Regions from separate parts of the Homo sapiens genome. Here region 1 is linked to region 2. Evidence: fine-mapped expression QTL. A gene starts in region 2. The other region holds a variant in brackets. All regions are shown on one strand. Distances are from middle to middle. Region 1 has its middle 18 kb from the start of LINC02049. Region 2 holds the start of STXBP5L (syntaxin binding protein 5L).

Region 1 (10,158 bases), 53 kb before region 2:
AATTATCTAATCTTTAAAGTATAGCATATGTTTTCGGTTCTAAGGTTACTAGTAAATATGGCAAAACTTATCTGAATCTCAAAACTTCTTATATTAAAATAGATATACTTTGGTCTGAGGCATGGTGCAGATTTATAGATGTCTTTCCTACCTTCCTTCTCAAATTCCAGCCTCCTTTTGGCTACTCGGATTCTGGGGGTCTGATTATATCTTATTTCCTATGAACTGGCCTAATTGGCCTTCTTGTTTCCTCTCAGAGCAAATTCCTTTTTTTTTTTTTTCTAGTTTAAAACTCCCAGAATTCATTGAGTCCTCACATTTAACCAGGATTTCTCATCTGAGGGATGTGCCTTATTCACAGAATGGCAAAGTATTTGACGTGTTCCCTTTTTCAGCTCAACTTACTTATTCTCACAACCCTGGGTAATTTGAAGATATGGAATTACCAGAGAATGTAATGTTTCCTCAAAGTTTGAGGATTTTATAGAATGAGTGAATCTTTCTGTGAATGAGTGAATCACCTATCATTGCAGATAATGCACACAGCAGAAGTTTGCAAGATTGTACTGATTCATTATTACTCAGGACATTCTTTAAAATTACTTTAAAAATTACATCCATGATGTCTAATTTTTTGTCCGTTTTCTCCTTTTAAAAATACAGAGCCATAGATCCCAGCCTCCTATGAACAGATATTTTAATGTAATAAGAAAATCCAGGAAATGGGAAATGCTTTTGTAAAAACCACAAAAACAAATGATTATAATCCAAATCCACCAATGTTTCTAACTCATGATTAGAAGGAAAATATTTTAAGTCTTTCCCCTTATTTTCATATGCAGTCAAAGAATTATGTAAGTGGTATTTATTGTAAATTCACTGTTTATACTTCACCATGATGAGAGGAGCACTCTATCTGAAATCATTATGAATTATTGTTGGGAGGAAGAACAGCCAGAATAAGTGATTAAAAAAGAGAATAAGGCAAGGGTCTGGTGGGGATAGGGTGCGGAGCTGCAGCTGCTATCTCAGCGTGAGAACAGAGACCTGTTATGCACGCAGGAGGAACACATGGTCTGCTTCCATCCTTGCAGAGCCCTTATTTCCGCTGAGTTCTCTGCTGACTCTAGTTCTCAGTCCAAAAGGAATTGGCACAATGTTTACTACCTGGAGGGATCAGAAATAAAGACCAACCCCCCCATGGTGCCTCTGAACAAGTAAGCTTAGAAAGCCGCAGAAGGGGAGACAGATTGCTAATAGCAAAGGGGTGGGGCGTGGCTTCTGTAGTATGGTCCTAAGGGAATTCTATCTATGGGCAACCAGGAAGAAGGAAGAGTAAGATCTCTGCCATACAAATATCTCATTGCCTGGGTAGAAACTGGTTGAGATAATGGCCCTGTGTTTGTATACCATTTAGAGGACTGCTTAGGAAAAATGGGCACATAGAAACAGCCATTCCTTTGTTGGAAATTGCCTTTTGGCAATTTCTTTCCCTTGGCATAGTGAGCCTTCATTTTTCACATAAAATGCACTGGCACCTAGACACAAAACTCCTTGGAAATACCCCTGAGTGCACTTTCTGGGACATGCCAGGTTCATGGCAGCAACTTGGGATCACAGAACTTTAGAATTAAAAAACCAGAAGGGGCCTTAGAGGTCACCCAGTCAGCTGTGTATGCCCAACAGATTCTGGGTGAATCATGAGTTTTCATCAAGTTGGGCATCTGCCTGTGAATTTGGATGATGTCACTTCAGTGCTGACAAATGAGCAGCCTGGCTAGAGCCAACACTTGTGTGGGATGCTTCATCCACAGGCGTTAGCTGGTTAATTTGATGATAAATTAGTTCTTTCTGACTCAGTGGACTGCAGCACCAGCAGTTTTGCCTAGTCTGGGCTTCATTTACCTGTCACTGTCACTGTGATTGCTGGGTCTCTGAGTTCTTCCTTTTCCCGCTCTACTGATGCTAACTTTTTAGTAGACTAGCTAATTGGTTCACTCTTCTCTCCTCTGCCTAGTCCCCTCCAGCCAACTGCCTTCTCACAATCTCTGTCTTCAAATCAGGGAAAAGGAGGAGTAGAGATCAGGTGTCATGTCTGAGGATGAGGGCTGGTGGTCCACCTTCTCCCCAACTAAAGTTCTTCCCTTCTCTTCTGATGTCAGGATCTCTCCATTCCTCTCATCCCCTTCCTCAGCAGCATATTGGGAGGATTAGGCAATGGAAAGAGATGTATTTAGTCTAACTTCAGTCTACAGGTCAGGGACTGGGATCAGTCCTTGCACGAAGAGGGCATCGCAGAGATTTAGCTCCAAAGAATACTCTGAAGTCAGGTGAAGATACCATTGTCTGCATCCTTAAGTTAAGGTGACCTCCTAGCTATGGAAGCAATGAAGCAGAGGTGGGGCAGGCTGCAGGCCTTTCTCTTAAACTCACTTGGCCAAAACCTGTCTCCTAACCTGAGGACACGTGCCTGAGAAAGATAAAGGAATGTTGACAGAAACAAGATAGACTATGTGACTGAGATAAACCAAAACAGGAAAAGACAAATTTCACGTTGGAGATGAAAACAAGCAGTGTCTGTCCCCTTCCATCTCTGAACCAACAAGTAATTCTAATCTTGTCAAAAAACCTTGAAAATTATGATAGTTAAATATCAGTAATAAGGGGGAAAATACCCATATATTCTGAATCAGTAATTTTCAAGCTTGGCTTCACATTGAAATCATCTAGGGAGCTTTAAAAAGTACTGATGCCTTTGTCCCACTCTCAGAAATTTTGATTCAATTGGTTTGGAGTGCTGGCAAGACATTGGGATCTTTCAAAAAGGAAATTATCATATGCAACAGCGTAACTTTCCAGAGATTAATTTTTTTCTTTTCTTTAGGGAGAGAGGCACCATAAAAGCACCATGGAATCACCTTAGGCCTCTCCTTCAGAAGGGAAATTACTGTGGAATCTGAAGGTGGTTTCTTTCAGACAGGCAGGTGGATAGGAGTTCTTAGAGTCTGAACTCAACAGTTGCTGTCTAGAATAAGGGGGGTATAATTAGATGCTTTGCATTTTGACAGTTCAAAAGCAAAGGCTACATAACCCTTAGCTGCAGATTCCCAGATAGAGAAAAGGGATAGCAGCTGAGGGTCCCCTAATGTCCTGGCAGGTATCTGTAAACGGCTCTTATCTTTGCTTTTCCTGCTGTGTACCTGAAATTTCCCACTTCCTCTTATCAAGTTTCTAGCTCAAATATCAACTACCCTCCCTGAAGCTTTTCTAGCCACCTCAGGTAAAATTAATCTGTTTTGCATTCCTAGAGTGCTGCATGCATATTTCTATTCCCGCACTTGTCACCTTATATTACAGTTACTTGTTTACATGCTTGTCTTCCTTCACAGCTAGACTCTGAACTTCCTAAAATCAGAGACTTCACTTTTCATCTTTATATAATAAATGTCAAGACATAAATGACTTTTGATAGGTGCATAACAAATATTTATGGAATTAATCAGAAATAATAAGCTAGGTTCTTAGAGAGTCCAGAATTCTATTTCACTTACAATGTAATTGAAATAAATGTACAAGTAATGAATGGTAGAAAGCAGTAATGTAGAATAATTTTTTTGTCTTTAAAGTACCATGAAATTTGTTTAAATACAGAATAAATAAGAACATAAAATGCATAAGGCAGAAATTTCCCAACATGCCATCAGTCAGTGGTCCAGGGGTTTGGAGCATCGTGTGCAGAAGGGTAGAAGAGTGGCTGGAGGTGAGGCTGGGGACTGGGGATACTACCTGGAGCTCACTGTGGGAAGCTGTGTGTGATATGGGAGGCATTTGGACCTTGAGGGGGTCCTCTAAGCAGGAAATGACAAAATTAGATTTGTCATTGGTTTAGAAAAGGATCAATCTCTGGCTTTCTGGTGGATTTACCATAACATGGTAAAGTGGGAAGACCAGGGAGGAGTTTACTGTCCAGGCGAGTGATTGGAAAATGCGTCTTCTATTCCTGTTCCAAATAATAGGCCTCCCAATTGTTTTAGGCTTAATTGTGTCTCCCCCAAAATTCACATGTTGAAGTCCTAACCCCCTAGTACCTCAGAATGTGACCGTGTTTCAAAATATTTAAAGGGGTAATTAAATTAAAATAAAGAAAATTAGGGTTAGCCCTAATGCAATATGACTGATTTCCTTATAAGGAAAGGACATTAGGACACACACACACACACACACACACACGCGCGCG[C/T]GTGCGCGGAAAGCCATATGAAGATATGGGGAGAACACAGCCATCTGCAAGTCGGGAGAAAGGTCACAAGAAGCCACCCTGCAACACACCTTGATCTTGATTTCTGGCTCCCAGAATTGTGAGAAAATACATTTCTTTATTGTTGTATTCATTTGTTAGAGATACCATAGCAAACTAATACATCAAGAAACTCTTAGGACATAATTTATTGTTAAGTTCTATGCTGCTCTTATGTATTATTTTTCACTACCTTAAGCCCTAGGTCTTGAAGCAGTTTGTGGGGCAGAGAACAGACATTTTAGCACACAGTCTTTCACTAAACTTTAAAATAACATATGCTAGAAGTGCCCCCTAGAAACCTAGGGTTTGAGCAAACAATATGAAACCTTGAAGAAAGATAATTTTTCATCTTAGATTTTCTTTAATGGATATATTAGAAATTGATATTTATCATTTTCTGCCCCATTCCCATTCAACCCCAAACATGCACTCATATACATTTAACCACATATTCTATTGAGAGAATCTGCAATATAGCTCTAGTGGCTCCGTTGGTAGCAAATAACCCTGTTTTACTTTGCTTGGCTACAGTGACCACAGGGGTGTCATTTGACTCAAAGAGAACTAATGTACAGACTGAGCTGACTGAGCAGACTCTCTCTCTCTCTCTCTTTCTAATTTGAACCAAGAAAGCTAGAAACTGAGGACATTAGTAGCTGAATAGTGTTTATGTTGGAAACAGAATGACTATTGCTGAAGTTTCCTGATTTGCTTGGTTTTTCTGAGGCCTCTTGATTTGTAGATCTGTATCGTTATAATAAGCCCCCTTTACTTGAGCCACGTTAAGTAGATTTCTCTTCCCTGCAAGCAAATGTGCCATAATACAAAGGATAAAATTAATTCTAAAGCTGAGGTTAAGCTTTAGAGACTAAAACCATGAATAACCACAGATATATCCTGAAATATATGTAATTCCATATATCTTTTTATTCTCTAGAACAAGACACAAAGCCTATACCACAAAGAGGGGGAGGAAAAACTAAGGTGGTAAAGTAGCTGCTTCCATGATTCATGTAAACTTTACTTTTAATCTTCTCAATTTTCATTTAAATATGAGTATGTATGTATGAATATATACATATGCAAAATATACCAGAAAAATTGATAGTTTTACTTGGGAAAAGAAAAAAGGCAGAGGATATGGAATTGAAGCATGAAGTTCCATGATACACACAGAAAGCAATTTCAAATCTACCCCTATAATACTGACACAGTTGAAACTGAAAGGTCTTATCTAAACCCATGTATTATTCTGAATAAGGAAAATTTTAGTAGCTTTCTGAATTGCAACTGAATTCCTAAATGTGAGCATTTAAATCATTCTTAATTATCTGAAAACACTTGGTGAGGTGATTTTGAAGTGTGAGTTATTTTCCTCTCCTCTCTGACTCAGTTTTGCAAAGCAAACATTGCTTTTTATGGGCACTGTCATAGATTCAGGCTAATGGCCCAGCTTCCTTTTCCTCATTAGAGGACGTACAAGGTTTGGGGAGGCTTTCTGGATTCAGCTAAACTACATTTCAAGGCAGGGCTCTGCATTCAACATTAGATCTGAGAATGGGATTCTATGTGGAGGAGGGATGGCCCTCCAAGGGACAGGCCTGGGCGCTTTCCTCTTCCTGACCAGGACTGATTGCCCTGCAGATGGCCCCCTGACTGGCTTTTCTTAGGAGAAGAGAGAAGCCAGGCAAGCGGCATTTGGCCTTCCCTTTATAGCATCTGTGACAGAGAAAATAATTAAAAACCAAATATTAAGTGATCAGTCTAGAGTCAGAAACATGGAGGCCAGGCTGACTCAGAGGACAGAGGAAACAAAGGCATAAGGTGAAGTACTAACCATATATAGACAAGACAAGATGGTCTGGTGTTTATGTGCACAGGTACTGAGTCAGCCTGCTGGGGCTCAAACTCCAGCCTGCTGTTTGTTTATAAGTTTCTTGACTTCCCCAAGTCCTAATTTTCCCGTCTAGATAGACAGTGGTAATAATAGTACCTACCTCATAATGTTGTTAATTAAATGTGATAATATATGTAAGATGATTTGCATTCCATCTCATGTGTGACAAAGGTTTTATGTTATTAATATAAAGCTTGCCAACCTAGAGGAGAGACATGCTGTGGAGGGGAGCAGGGCCAGGGGCCATAACACAGAAGAGAGATGGGGCAGCATAGGCTGCATCTCACACCACCTTGTTCTCTACCTGCATTTGGCACAGAGGTAAGCCGTGTTCCTCTGGCTGGGCAGCTGCATCAACACATAATAAAATAAGAGATTTGGAGAACTCTTCAGAAAGCAAAGAACAGCTGTGCCTTTCTCCTCCGTTTAGCTTATTTTTGTTCCCCATGAAGGCCACTCTAGCTACTGAGATTAAAAACAACATCCCTCTCTCCCCCCGCAAAAAAAAAAAAAAAAAAAAAAAAAACTTTTTCTCCAGTGAACCAAGAGATTTAAGTAGCAGCTCCAGTGACAGAATATCTGGCTGGCTGTCTGGCTCCTGTGTGCTGGCGCCTCTCCATTCCCGCCCATCCCCATCCTAGTTTTGGCTTTCCTAGTCAGACTTCTCTGCATAGCAGCAGAGGGTGTGCTCAGCAGCTCTGCCCAATGACTGATGGACCTGCAGCAGCCCCCGCGGAGGAGGCCAGGCTGTGATTCAGACTTCAGAGCATATTTGGAGGGTATTGCTTCTCAGCTGCCAGTAACTGCATTAGACTTGCACTTGGTTAGTGATGGGCACTTTGTGGTTACTTTTCTGATTAATAACTTATCTTACCTATATGACCCTCTTTCCAACTACCCTTTATTTTTGCCCCCTCTCCCCTTATATCTATTTCCTTGTTTGTCCTTGTGAATAACTACATATTTCAATGTCTTTGGATATAAATTCCTCTCTCTAATCTGATGGACACACAAAACTTAATTGTGAATCCCTTTGGGAAAGTCCCATTTAATAACAGACAAGGCTGCCCCATGGAAGCCCCTATAAGCCCAAAGCCTGTCTAGTGGGGAAAGAGGGTCCTCAGCTGACCTATACATCTCATAGATGTTTCATTCAGCCCTCAGGTTCCCAGATTCAGGGGACCCTCAGTACGATCACATGTGCTATCAGACTATTCTTTCCAGAGCCTGGAACTCTGAGCCTTCAGGGACAGGTCTGGTACCTCTCCTTTTGTGCTATGATTGTGTACACACATATTGTGTTTTTCAAAAATGGTGGTTGGCAATGCACACATACCTGTAGTTGATTGTGACTGAGATATTTATAACATAAGGACTAGACTAGAGCACTAGAGTTCAACAAAGTTTTCGCAGAGATTGTTGTAGTGAAAGTGAGTGTGGAGAATCAAGTTGGCAGGCTCTGAAGACCCCACCCCTATTCAACAGGAAAAATTCCGCTTGACGAGTTTTGCATATTTGGTTCTGTGCTGGATATCTTCTGTTTGCTTGTTTAAATCCATTCTCTGTCCTTTTCATCTTGTCTTTTGTCTCGGGAGGCTGACTTCTATGGATTGCATTAATTGAACTTCCTTGACCTTTAGCTTTCTATTGGGTTCAGCCAATGGAAGAAGCAGCAGTAGATTGGAGGGCCGAAGGAGAGAGAAGCAAGGGTATTTCTTTTCCAGATTCCTTAATTTCTAGGTTGTTGTTGGCAATGGCTTCATTCCTCTACCAAAGCCCACCTCTCTTATTTGGTGGCCCTCTCCCATAGCTTCAGTTCTTGCCAGGTCTTGATCATCACTCTGCCCTCTTTCTTGCACCTTCAGGCCTAGGGGTGGCAACACCATTCCTGGCCCTGAGGTACTCTCACCTTCCCTTGTAGTTTTCCCTTTATCCCACCCAGACCTTTGTGAATAGCCCCTTCATTAAACCCTATTCACTTACCCTTTTTGAGTTTTCCTTCAGTTTGAATTTGTCATGCTAGGACTATGACTGATCCAGTCTTCTATTGTAAGGTTTTGTTTAGTAAAATATTTTGCTGCTAAATGAAATTTGTGAAACCATGGCACTGGACAATCAGAAGCATTGTGAGAACAAATGTCATGTTCTTTGTGGGTGTAAATTACCCAAGATAGCTAAAGCAATGTCTTCAAAAAACCATTAAATTTGTGATCTTTACTATATAGTTTAAAGTTTATATTAAGGAATATATTTAATTCAGTACTAAATTTATTAACTAAATCAACTTTGGAATCAGACAGGCTTGCAGCCTGACTCTGGCACTTACCAGTTCTTTAATCTTGAGTAAGCTATTTAACCTCCCCAAGCCTCAGTTTTCTTATCCGTAAGATAGAAGTAATAACATTCTCTAGTTCATGGAACTGTTATGAGAATTAAATGAGATGGTATATATAGAGTGCTTAATGCTGAGCTTGATACTTAGCTTGATGCCCAATAAACTTTAATGTTTGCTATTATTATTTATAATAATAATATGGTTAAGAATATATCAAACCAGCAAAAGTGAGCCATTTGAAGAAAGAATAGTTTGAAAATCTAAAGGTCTGGGTGGGGAAACAACAAGTGCTTCACTTAGACAAAGACCAGACCTGGTTCTGCCCACCTCTTGCAAGCATCTAAATCAGCCTTCCTGTCCAAAGATCTGTGGTGAAACAACATGCATTCTGGGCCATCAGAGATTCCCTGGCAATAACAGTAAATTAAGACAGGCATATAAGGCAGAGAAAGCAGCAGTCACCTGTGGAAGTTGTAGAGAACCTCCTTCAAATCTTGGTTCAAATGTTATGCTTTCAATGAGACCTACCCCAGACCTACTAAAAACTGACTCACACCCAATCCCCGGAGCTCCTGATCTCCCATGTCCTACTCTATTTGTTTTCTTCACTCCATTGCGCCCTTCACCTCCTAGCATACCATACAATTGGTTTATTTATTTATTACATTTTCTGCTTTCTGTCTCTCTCTTTCAGCTAGAATATAAGCTCCATGACAGCGGGACATTTTTGGCATGTACACAGATGTTTTCCAACTCAGTATTCAATAAATATTTGTTGAATGTTGTTGAGTCATCTCTGCATTACATTGTGTATGACATTTGGCTATCCAAGGATGCCAAGTGATAACCACTGGATGATTATTTGATTGTATTCAATGGATGTTTACATCAGTTTTACAAATTAGTCATCATTTATGACTGGTCCCGCACTCGAATTATGTCTGCTTAAAAGTCTGGTACAAAGTGAGCACTCAATAGGTGTTAGTCCCCCCATGTTGTGTAACTATGTGTTGTATTTAGCTTTTTTTTTTAAATTAGTTTTCATGTACGGGTATCTGTGTGGGTGGGTACACTGCAAAGCACATCTGTGCTTCCACACAGTGTTAAAAGCTCTTAACTATCTGTCTGCAGCTTATCAGAGAGAAGACAATAATTGCTTCTTTAGTATTCCCTTTTCACTTTGAGTGTTCTCCCTCATTTCCTTCCTTCCTCAGTTTTCCTAAGTTTTAGCCATTTAGTTTGTTTTCCATACGGAATTGTTGATAGCATGGAAACTAGCAAAATCCAACAAAAAAATTTTTAAATCCATTTAGGTCCTGTTTGTACCATTTTTTTCCCTATTAGAAAGCCTCATGATTCCTGTCCAAATTATCTTCTAGGATAATTAGGAGCCCTTTCACTTGCTTTCTTCTGATTGAAGGTGGGATTGAAGATTGATTTGATAGTTCATAGCAATAAGTTCAAAGGCATAGTCCAAAAAGCTGGAATTAAGTCCCAAACAAAGGATTTATGATGGAGGATACATGATATTGAGTGGAAGTATTTTGGAAGGGGAAACCAGAGTTTTCTGACTCAATGAGAAGAAAGCTTTTAAAGGATACCTGTAACATGAACTGTTAAGGGTTCTCA
Region 2 (10,158 bases):
TTCTACAAGTCACTTTTATATACATAATTTCACTTGTTTCTTATATTACCCTGTATTTATTCCCATATAAAAGGGTAAATTGAGGCTTAGAGGCTAAAAGTGCTTGTTAGTGCAACAGTTAGTAAACTTAGGCCTGTCCCAACACTAAATCTTTTTTCTTACCACATCACAATGTGATGGATGAATATGTGAAAATTATTTTAGAATATGCACAAAGAGCTGATTTTAAGTACATGTTTAACAGCAAATATTTGAGTTTTGCCCCTAGCAGGGCAAAACTATTTGCTATTCTGTTATTGATTGTGTGCTGAGCCATATTTTGTGTCTTGGTTCTATCCTAATGACCCCTGCCTGTTTATCTGAAACCCATGACAGCTATGACATTATCTAATTAACCCTGTGGTTTTTCCTTTGTGGATTTGGACTAGGAATAAGGGTTTTAATGCTGATTGTTATTTATTGCCATATAATAGAAAGCTGACAATTATTAACCAGTACTCCTCTTGAAGGATGTATAATAGGGTCAGAAAAGAGTTAGATGAAAACTTAGGAAGGAAAGGTAATTCCTAATCCTCTGGAAAAATTTGCCAGAAAGGATATAGGTGGAACCTGTTTACTTAGCTATGTTCTCTTACTGAAATTCTAACTTTTAAACCGGCAAATAATAAGGACACTGCTATAACTTGATTGAAGAGTCAGAAGTGAGTGACAAATTAGGTTGCTCATGCCAGGACCTAGAAGCTCACAGCACGCACAATGGAAATGTTCGCATTTGCTAATGTAAACAATTGCCAGCCCCACCTTATGGTAAGTATTATGTCATCATTCTCCCTCCATCCAAATTCTCCTTCCAGCTGTTCTGATAGTCACTCAGACTACAGCCTTTCTCAGCAAATTAATACTGCCTTACTACATCTAATTAGTTATTGATAACTGATTTTCTTCAATTTTGATGGGGTACTCCCCTGCGACTCTGTTAATGTATTTCAAATTATACTGAGATTTCTTGTGAGATAAGAACCTCCCATTAGCTTGCCGTTCCCAAAGTCTTCCATTTCTAGTACTCAGTGCCCATGAACTCTCAAATGTCTTTTTAGTTCTAGTATCCAAATTCCTGAAGAGATATTTTCCATTTTTTTCTGTTTTGTTTTAACCTAATACTCGAATTTGTCATAATTAACTTTTCTAATATAAAACACCTTTATAAAGGGATTTCTCTGGGTCCTCAACAGAAAACTACTAGCGTGAGGAAAGAACTTTGGAGTAAGATTGAGATTAGTCCAAATTCTTGTTTCAAAACCTACCAGATGTATGATATTGGGCTTATTACTTAACCTTGCTTTGCTTCAGTTTTTTACCTGTAAAATGGAGTTATCTATAGCTACCATACATTATTGTTGTGAGGATTAAATGAGAAAATAAATGTAATTTTTTTTTTGAGATGGAGTCTCGCTCTGTCACGCAGGTTAGAGTGCAGTGGCGCGATCTCGGCTCACTGCAAACTCTGCCTCCTGGGTTCAAGCAATTCACCTGTCTCAGCCTCCCAAATAGCTGGGATTACAGGCTCCTGTCACCGTGCCCAGGTAAATTCTGTATTTTAGCAGAGACAGGCCACCATGTTGGCCAGGCTGGTCTCGAATTCCTGACCTCGTGATCCACCCACCCTGGCCTCCCAAAGTGCTGGGATCATAGGCGTGAGCCACCGCGCCCGGCCAATAAATGTAAATTTTTAAACACAATTCCAGCTCATAGTAGATGCTCTCCTCAAAGGATGTTGAATTTGATGATCTTATTGTCATGGGCTAAATTGTGTCTTCCCAAAATTCATATGTCAAAGCCCTAACCTTCAGTACCTCAGAATGGAAGCATATTTGGAGATAGGATATTTTAAAAGGTGATTAAGCCACAATGAGGCCATGAAGGTGGACTCTAACACAATCTGACTGGGAGCCTTATAAGAAGCGGAAATTTAGGCACATGGAGAAATCAACGAGGGATGTGAGCCCACAGAGAAAAGACCATGTAAGGCCACAGAGAGAAGGTGACTATCTGCAAGCCATTGAGAGAGCCTCAGAAGAAAATAAATCTGCCGATGCCTTGATCTTGGATTTCTAGCCTCCCAAACTGTGCTAAGTTCCTGTTTTTTAAGCTACCCAGTCTATGGTATTTTGTTATGGCAGTCCTGAAAGACTAATACACATACAATCACTATTTTAGGTGGAGAATTGACCCGCCACCTTTTTTTCTATTCTAGTTTCTATTTAATCTTCTAAATGGTATCAAATAATAAGGCACCGATTAAGAGCATGATCTTAGAAGTTAGACAGCTTTGAATTCGAAGACTGGATTATCCACCTAAGTGACCTTGGGTGAATTTCTTAAATATTTCTGAGCTCCAAATTTCCTCTTTCATAAAATGGGGACAATACCTATCTTATAGAGTTATAATAAGGATCAAGTTAAAAGAGTTGTATGTAAAGTTCATAGTACAATGTTTGACGTAGTGCTAAATAACTGGTAGAATTATTATTATCTCTATATACAATGGATTATTTACATATGGTTTTGTCAATTTTGCTTAGTTTTCTGTAACCCTAGCCAGTTAAATTTTCTTCTCTGTGTGAAGTGCCACACATGTACATACTTTCTACAATTATTTAATTATTTTGCAGGTGTGGAAAGGCAGCCTCTCTTAGCTTCATTGTTGGCTTGAGTCCAAAATCACGAACACTTAAAGTGAGTTGTAACATATTTTCAACACACATCCTAAAAATCCTTCTGATGTAGTAGATTTATTTAAATGCTTTGATGATTTTGCTCCATGGATCAAGCTGAAAGTATTTTTCTTTTTGCAGTTCTTCATACTTGTCATTTTAGGAAGAAATCAAGCCTTATTCAGAAGCTGTACCTCAGCCATTCCTCTCCACAAAGTATTCTTCCAGTTTGCAGTGAATGATAAGGGGTCATCATTATTATTACCCGATCCAACTCTGAAGTTTCTCACATTATTTATAAAATATATGCTGTGGTCTGGTCTCATTGCTGTTAATAGATGGTTTATAAAATAACATCTTATTGCTTTTTAATTAATCCAGGATGAAATTTACTTCCATAGATATTTCATTATGCTTCTCTCACCTAGTAAGATTTTTAGGCTATTGTTTCTGCTGTCTCCTCATACACACAATGTACTCTGCCTCTTGCTTAATTCTATCCTTTGCTCACAGTTTGTGAATTGGCATCACAATATCCTGTGTGCACAGGCTCTCTGAGACTGCAATTATGTTATGATTTTTACTTGCTGCCATTCATTCAAATTAATATTCACTGGGCACTTACTATGTAGAAGACATTATGCTATTCACTGTGGAGGAACACAGATATTTGAAATAATCCCAAATAGTCCACAATCTAAGCATCCTAATGATCATATTTTTTTAGGCTTCCAATATTTATTTGGAAACATGAATACATTTTGACTTGGCTTTTCTCCCACTTCCTATACCTATTTGTTGTCCCATCTAACTCAGGCAGTCCATTGAATTCTCTCCAGGGTCCTCAAGAAGGATCTCTGTCAATCTTTTGTGTACTTTTTTCCTCAGCTCTCCCCCAATTTTTAGAATAAAGACCATCATTTAGTTTGTGATAATATGGTGCTAGTGATGATCAGTTTAAGAGGTTTTGTTTGCAAACATTACATCTCACTTTGCTGAATTGGGGCTATTCTCCTTCTTCGCTCCCATCAAAATGTCAAACCACTACTTGCTATAGGCTTGCTTTCATTTATTAGAAAAATGAAAACTCAGCCACTTTATTATAACCCTCCTTGCCTCTGTTTTTAAAAAGAAAAGACAGACATAAAACAAGGAAAGCAAACTCTTTATCCTTAACTAGCGTCCATACTTTGAGGTGAGCAATGGGCCAGGAAGAAGAGAAGAAAAAAGGTGGAAAAGAGTAAAAAGATACCTGTTGTTAGGGACCCAATACAGAATTTGGAACCCTACCAAGATCTAGTTTGTGTCAGACATATCACTTATTTCCACCATTATTTTTACCCCTTTCAAACATTATGTAATTGGGTACCAACTCATATATCTTTAATAAAAAATATTAATAAACCAACTCTTCAGAACCCTTTACGTGCCTATTTTAAGTGAAATATTGTGCCTGGTGCTAAATAATCTAGGAGAAATATACAATTCCATGCTTGCCTTCAAGAAGGTTACTGTCTAGCTGTGGCAATGAGAGACTACCAGCAGTGTAGGGAGTCCCAAAAGGAGTGAAATAGTCATTCAGGACAGAAAGATTCAACGTTGAGCTGAGGATCTGAAAAACTGAGCTCTATTTCATCTTTACCATTTCTTTGCTATGTCCTTGGACAAGTCATCATCCTTCAAGTCTCCTGCTTCCTCCTTCCCACTCTCTCCCTTGATTGAGAGAAAAGAGAGAGAGAGAAGAGGAGAGGTGAAAAAGAAGAAAAAGAAGAAAAGAAAAAAAGAGGTCAAAGATTGTAAGATGTAAGACAATATTTGAAATGATCACTAATGAGTTCTGTTGTGATGCCCAAATTGAAGTCTCAGTTAGCTGTGACCCGCTGAACTGCCATTCATTTCGCAAAGACATCGGGGTCCAAATTTTCCCGAAGTCAATAGCAGGTGAGGGCTCAGAACCAAATCTATCCTGATACAGTTTTTTTTTCTGCACTGAATAATACATCTTTCAAAATGATTATTGTGACTCACAGAAATAGCTTAAAATATATTCTTGATACGGTTTACAGAGTGAGAAATATTTCTTTAAAGAAATTAAATATCTTTGTATATGTGAGGATGATGGGGAAGGAGTAATTCTACTTACTAGAGAGCAAGGTAAGCAATCAATTCCTTAGGCTCTAGAAGGCTATATATTCTGAAACTGTTGAAATACAATTCTCCTTGGCAGATACGAACCATTAAGCCATTATTGGTAACAGCAGGGGTTAATCACAGATACAAGTTGAGTGCAGGTAGCAGGAGAGTGATGGGAGCCAGATAGATGCTCCTGAAGACCGGGAAGAGGCTCGCAGAAGTGAAAAGGTGCAAAACACTTGCTCAGTTCACCATACTGTCCAGAGCCATACCTAAGGTAAGCAACGCTTCCCGCATCCTCAGACTCCAGGCGTCCAAATTCGCACGCTTGCAGGCATTCTATTGATTCACACTTGAGTCCTTCAACAGGTAGCGCCAATTACATCCCCCAGAGCACGACCCCCAGCATACTGGCCAATACCGCTGTCAATCAAATACCTCACCTACTTCTCTAAATTCCCCCCTCCCACTGTCATTGGCTTTACCTTCGGCCTATCCACAGATTTCTTCTGCCCTGGAGACCACAGAACTTACCCTATCGAATCTAGGATTGGCGCCGAAGCTACTCCCGCCCTTTGACGTCCCCGGGCACCCCGCCCCCTTCACCTCCCAGCTTTGCCGGGGAAGAAGCAGGGCGGGGCAAGCTAGGGGCCGGCCCGGGGGCGGGGCCTGCCTCCCACGGCGGGAGGGCGGAGCCTGCTCTGGAGCCTGACTGCTCGGTTAGGACCTCGGAGAGCGCCAGGCGCCGCGACCAGAGGGCCCAGAGAAGCGGCCGGAGCCCGCCTACCTCGGCCCCCTCAGCTTCCCGGGCTGGCAGGCGGCTAGAGGCGTCTGAGGAAGGTGCCTAAGTCCTGGGTCAGATAGTCATCCCTCTGGGACGCCGCCGCCGCTGCCGCCGTCCAGCTGTGGCTCCCTCGCACCTGTGTGTGTCTGTGTGAGTGTGTGTGTGTGTTTGAGAGAGAGAGAGACAGAGAGAGACAGAGACAGAGAGCGAGCGCACCAGCGCGCGAATGCCCGTGTGAGGGTGTTTGTGTGTGTTCTGGCTGGGAGCGCGAATGCCTCGGCGTGAGGTGTTTGTGTGTTCGCGCGCCCGCGGGCGGGCGAGAGCCCCGCGCCTCAGCGCTGGGCCTGGGGGAGGGACAGCGGGAGCGGCGGCTCTGCGCGCCCAGCAGGCTGAGGCGGGACTCGGGCCGCAGCCGTCGCCGCCACCGCTTCACGTCCCCCGAGAGCGGCTGCCGTGCAGCGGGGAGAGCGGACGGCGGGCGGGCGAACAGGCGGGAGAGCGCGGCGGCGGCTGCGGGCAGAGGTGGAGGGAGGGGAGCAGGAGATGGGGAGAGGGGGGAAAGAGGACGCGGGGAGGGAGATGAGGGGGAGGTGAGGGGGAGGCGGAGGGACAAGTGGAAACAGACGGTGTCGCCGTTCTCCTCCTCCCCCCCTCCCCGGCAGCTGTTGCTGTGGGTCACTCGCAGATGTTTTGGGGTCCGGGCTGCTGGGGGATGGGGACTAGAAAAAGTACCCCCCTCCCCGCCTTTCATAGTGACAAAAAAGGAAGCGTTGAAGCTGATGGGGGAAGAGCCCGGAAGGTGGTGGCAGAGTAAATACCGGCTCCCCCAACGTCGTTTTTCTGAAAATAAAATACTCTGAGCCGAACGTTTCGAAGAAGGAAAGTCCGCCCTTAAGAGAGAGACAGAGTCTTGGTCTGTTGAACTCTGGTTTGATTGTATAATAATGATGATATAATGCTAATGACGATGATGACACTGCCTTTTATTTTTACCCCAGTGCTGATAAAGCGTAGTTACAGCTGGGGATACAGTCCTTGAAAATCTGATGTGTGAGGAGGGAATACTGTTGCTTTTGGAGTTGTGTTATATTTATCTTTTTTTAAAAAGGATATGCTTTTTAGAATTAAAATTTGGCAAAACGAATCCTGACTCTTTTTTTCCAGTCGGTCGTAACCAATGCTCATAAAATGGGGACTGACTTGACTAATGAAAAGAGAAAGGCTTTTACCAAGGTCTAATTGCACGTGTTAAGTCACCTCTTTCCCTTTTTTTCCTTTGTATTTCTCAACAGTGTTTAAAATGAAGAAGTTTAATTTCCGAAAAGTTTTGGATGGCTTAACTGCCTCCTCCCCTGGCAGTGGTAGCAGCAGTGGCAGTAACAGTGGTGGTGGGGCTGGAAGTGGTTCCGTACATCCGGCGGGGACTGCAGGGGTTCTCAGAGAGGAAATTCAGGAAACTTTGACTTCGGAGTATTTCCAGATTTGCAAGGTAAGTTTTGAATTGGCTTAAAGCCTATTATTTCTTTATTATACTGTTGTAAGGAAACAAGGGGGGAAAAACATACCAGGAACAGGAAACTGTTGAGATGTCAGCATCAGAGTCTGCTGCAGAAAGCTCTGTGGGTAGATCAGTTTGGCTTAATAGATATTTTAGGCGTCAACTTAAAAAGCAATGATAGTTTAAGTGGGAAATGAGCACACACAAAAAGTAGAATTTGCAAGATAATGTTAAGATCCAATAGTGGACAAAATTTTTAATATTTGTGTATTATATTAACTGAAGAAGCAAATAGTCGTTTGGTTTTTTGTGTTATCAGAGAAAATATTGTTATTTCACTGTTCAGTATGAAATGAATAAAGCTACTAGCATGTTGCTAGGATTAAGTAGATAATAGGAAAATATGTTCATTTTAAGGGGGCCAATGACATTGCTTTAAAATTCCGAATAAAAACACCTTCACATTCTTAAACTCTTCATAAATACACAAACAGACAAATGCACAGGCTTATAAGAACTTGCAGTTGTAGGAACTCAAAAATAGCGGGTGTTCTGGTTTAGTAAGAAAACATTTTATGTAATTATACTTTGATATTGAACTTCTAATGAATATGCAAAAGAGAGTTTCTGGTAGGTAGAGAAGATGAGAGTTTATAAAACAAGCATTAGGTTAATGCATAGAGATATTGTTATTGCTATATTTGTTATATTTTATGACATAAAGTGATTTATAATTTTATTGCCCTTTTTTGAGTTGTCTTGGAATGTGCCTATTATATGCAACAAAGGCTACTAAGTTATTTATGTCATATAAATGAATATAGTTTTGTAAATGTGTTTGGCTACATAAGAAATAGAAAAATTGCAAAATTACAGAAATTAACAATTTTTAAAAATACTTTCACAAAAGAAAAGTTTTTTGAAATTATTAAAATTATATTTGTGGTAAACAAGTGATATATGTATAATGAGGTATATTTCAATCACTGTCTCAGCCTATATTCCTAGCAGGGTCATTATAAAAACATTAAATCTATAGTTATTAGTTTACATAAAAGCAAGTTTATTTAGAGTTAATTTAGATAAACAGATTTAATTCTAAGCTACTTTGTGAAATTTGTGTACAGTAATAATTTTTTTCCTCAATAGGAAATAACAGATATTCTGTTCGATGAGGGAAGGTCTTAACAGTGGTTATGAGACAAATGTAAAAGAGTCCTGGAGTTCAAATTTGAACTGCTAGGCAGGGGAATTATGCCCTGATTCTCTAATCTTTGATGTGTTTGCAATTTTCACGATCAGATTCTGAAAATTTTTTCCAAATTCTCTCAATTCATGTATATGACAGTGATACAGGAGAATTTTACCAGAGGTAAAACTGGTATAGGAAAGATAGACTTCTGAAACAGAATGGCATTGGGCTGTTGAGGTCATAAAGCTTGTAGAGAAGGTTTTAAATAAAAAACTTCAGGGAAATGGGTGAATGCAAGAGATAATGGAATACATAGTTATCTTCCCATTTATTCAGGCAAGAGATAGTCATAGGAAGTACCAGAAGTTAAATACATACTACTTTAAAAACATATGGCATGGTAGGAAGAGCACTGGCCTAGGAATCAGAAAATTTGTGTTTTATTTAAAGTTCTGCTAGTTGACAGCCATATACTCTTGGGTAAGCCATTTATCTCCCTTGAGCCTTGATTTCTGCATCTGCAGTGTAGGAATAAGTGTATCTGCTCTCCTTAACTAAGAGACGGTTATTGGGAGGATCAGACAGAATAAGGTGAAGGTAATGCATAAATGGAAAGGATGATAAAATATATACGAATATTATTGTTAAAGTTTGTAAAATCACGTGTTCATAGTAGAGCGAATATAACTAGTGGGTTATAATAATATTAGCTTATGATTTCCAAATAAATTATAAGATAGATAGCTATATAAGTTGTCCACTAACAGTACTGAAGTCTTACTAAATGTGGAAAATACTGTAACATCTTTGGATAGGAATATAGTTAATTTTAAAAAATAGTTATATGGATGTATTATAATTACCTGGTCTATAACAAAACATATAAAAATGGACTAAGGAAATCCCAAAATTAGACCGTTACTGAAATGGGGACTTTATTTAGACTCATAGACTCCCTGATTAAATGTGCAAAAAAATTTCTCTTCTGAGTTCTAAGGAGCTGTCATATTCTGGGTGCTTCTACCTTTTCAACATGGGCAAAACTAAAGTATAAATCTAGACTTGGCTGTTTGAAAGCCTCCTCTCTTCTATCTGATTAGTCATCACATCCCCTCTATTCTATTTCCTTAGTATTTCTGAAATTTATGACCTTTTCTACATCCCCAGTACTTGTTCGTTCCGTCATATTTTCTTGCTTGGTCTTTTGAAATCACTTTCTAACTGATCTCTTTACTTCTAGTTTTACTGGATTACACTTCATTTTGTTACAATAATGGCTATTTCTGAAATACAATGTTAATTATGTCATTTCCTTGCTAAAAATTCTATATTGGTTTCCTACAGCAATGATGCTCTTAAAATGAAAGTCTTATTTGAAACCACAGTAAATAACATCTATTCAAACAAAAAAATGTGGCAACTCATGGGCACACATTTGTTTCAGAAATTATAAGAATAAATTATACAGCCAATTGATAAAAAAACTTTTTATATTTGTTTTTTATTGTGTAATATCGCCCATAGGAAGGTAGTAGGATGTTCGCTAGCCTTAAAAAAGTGAAAGTATAAAGCTGTACCCTTCATAATAAACAAAATATCTATGAGATGTTCAAAGTCATAGAAATGGCAGAAGAAACTTTGGTTCAAGGTCAGCCAAAAAAAAAAAAAAGTTAATGCATTGGGTTACTGCAATCGTTCAGAATGTGTATACATTGGAATGCCTGCATTGTCCAGGTATTTGTGAAATACATGAACTGCCTTTCCTGAACTTGAATTCTGTGAAATACAATTTGAAACTATTGCTCTATAAAATAAATTTCAAATTGCTTACCTTGAT

The links. PIP is the estimated chance that this variant, and not a neighbour inherited with it, causes the effect.
Region 1: its variant is the best candidate, but not a certain one, in a credible set for the expression of STXBP5L in thyroid (GTEx, PIP 0.71).

What each region holds. Positions count from the first base shown.
Region 1 is chr3:120,849,371-120,859,528 of GRCh38, forward strand. No RefSeq gene overlaps it. Among named protein-coding and RNA genes, the nearest start is that of LINC02049, 18 kb to the left of the region's middle. The variant C/T (reference allele first, on the strand shown) is at 4,238.
Region 2 is chr3:120,902,648-120,912,805 of GRCh38, forward strand. It overlaps STXBP5L (syntaxin binding protein 5L), which reads left to right and starts at 5,558. Exons shown (of 27, transcript NM_001308330.2): 1 at 5,558-5,687; 2 at 6,924-7,120. The coding sequence starts at 6,932. LOC105374069 (a long non-coding RNA gene) reads right to left here and starts at 5,446. Exons shown (of 6, transcript XR_924399.4): 1 at 5,382-5,446. RefSeq lists a silencer at 5,390-5,629.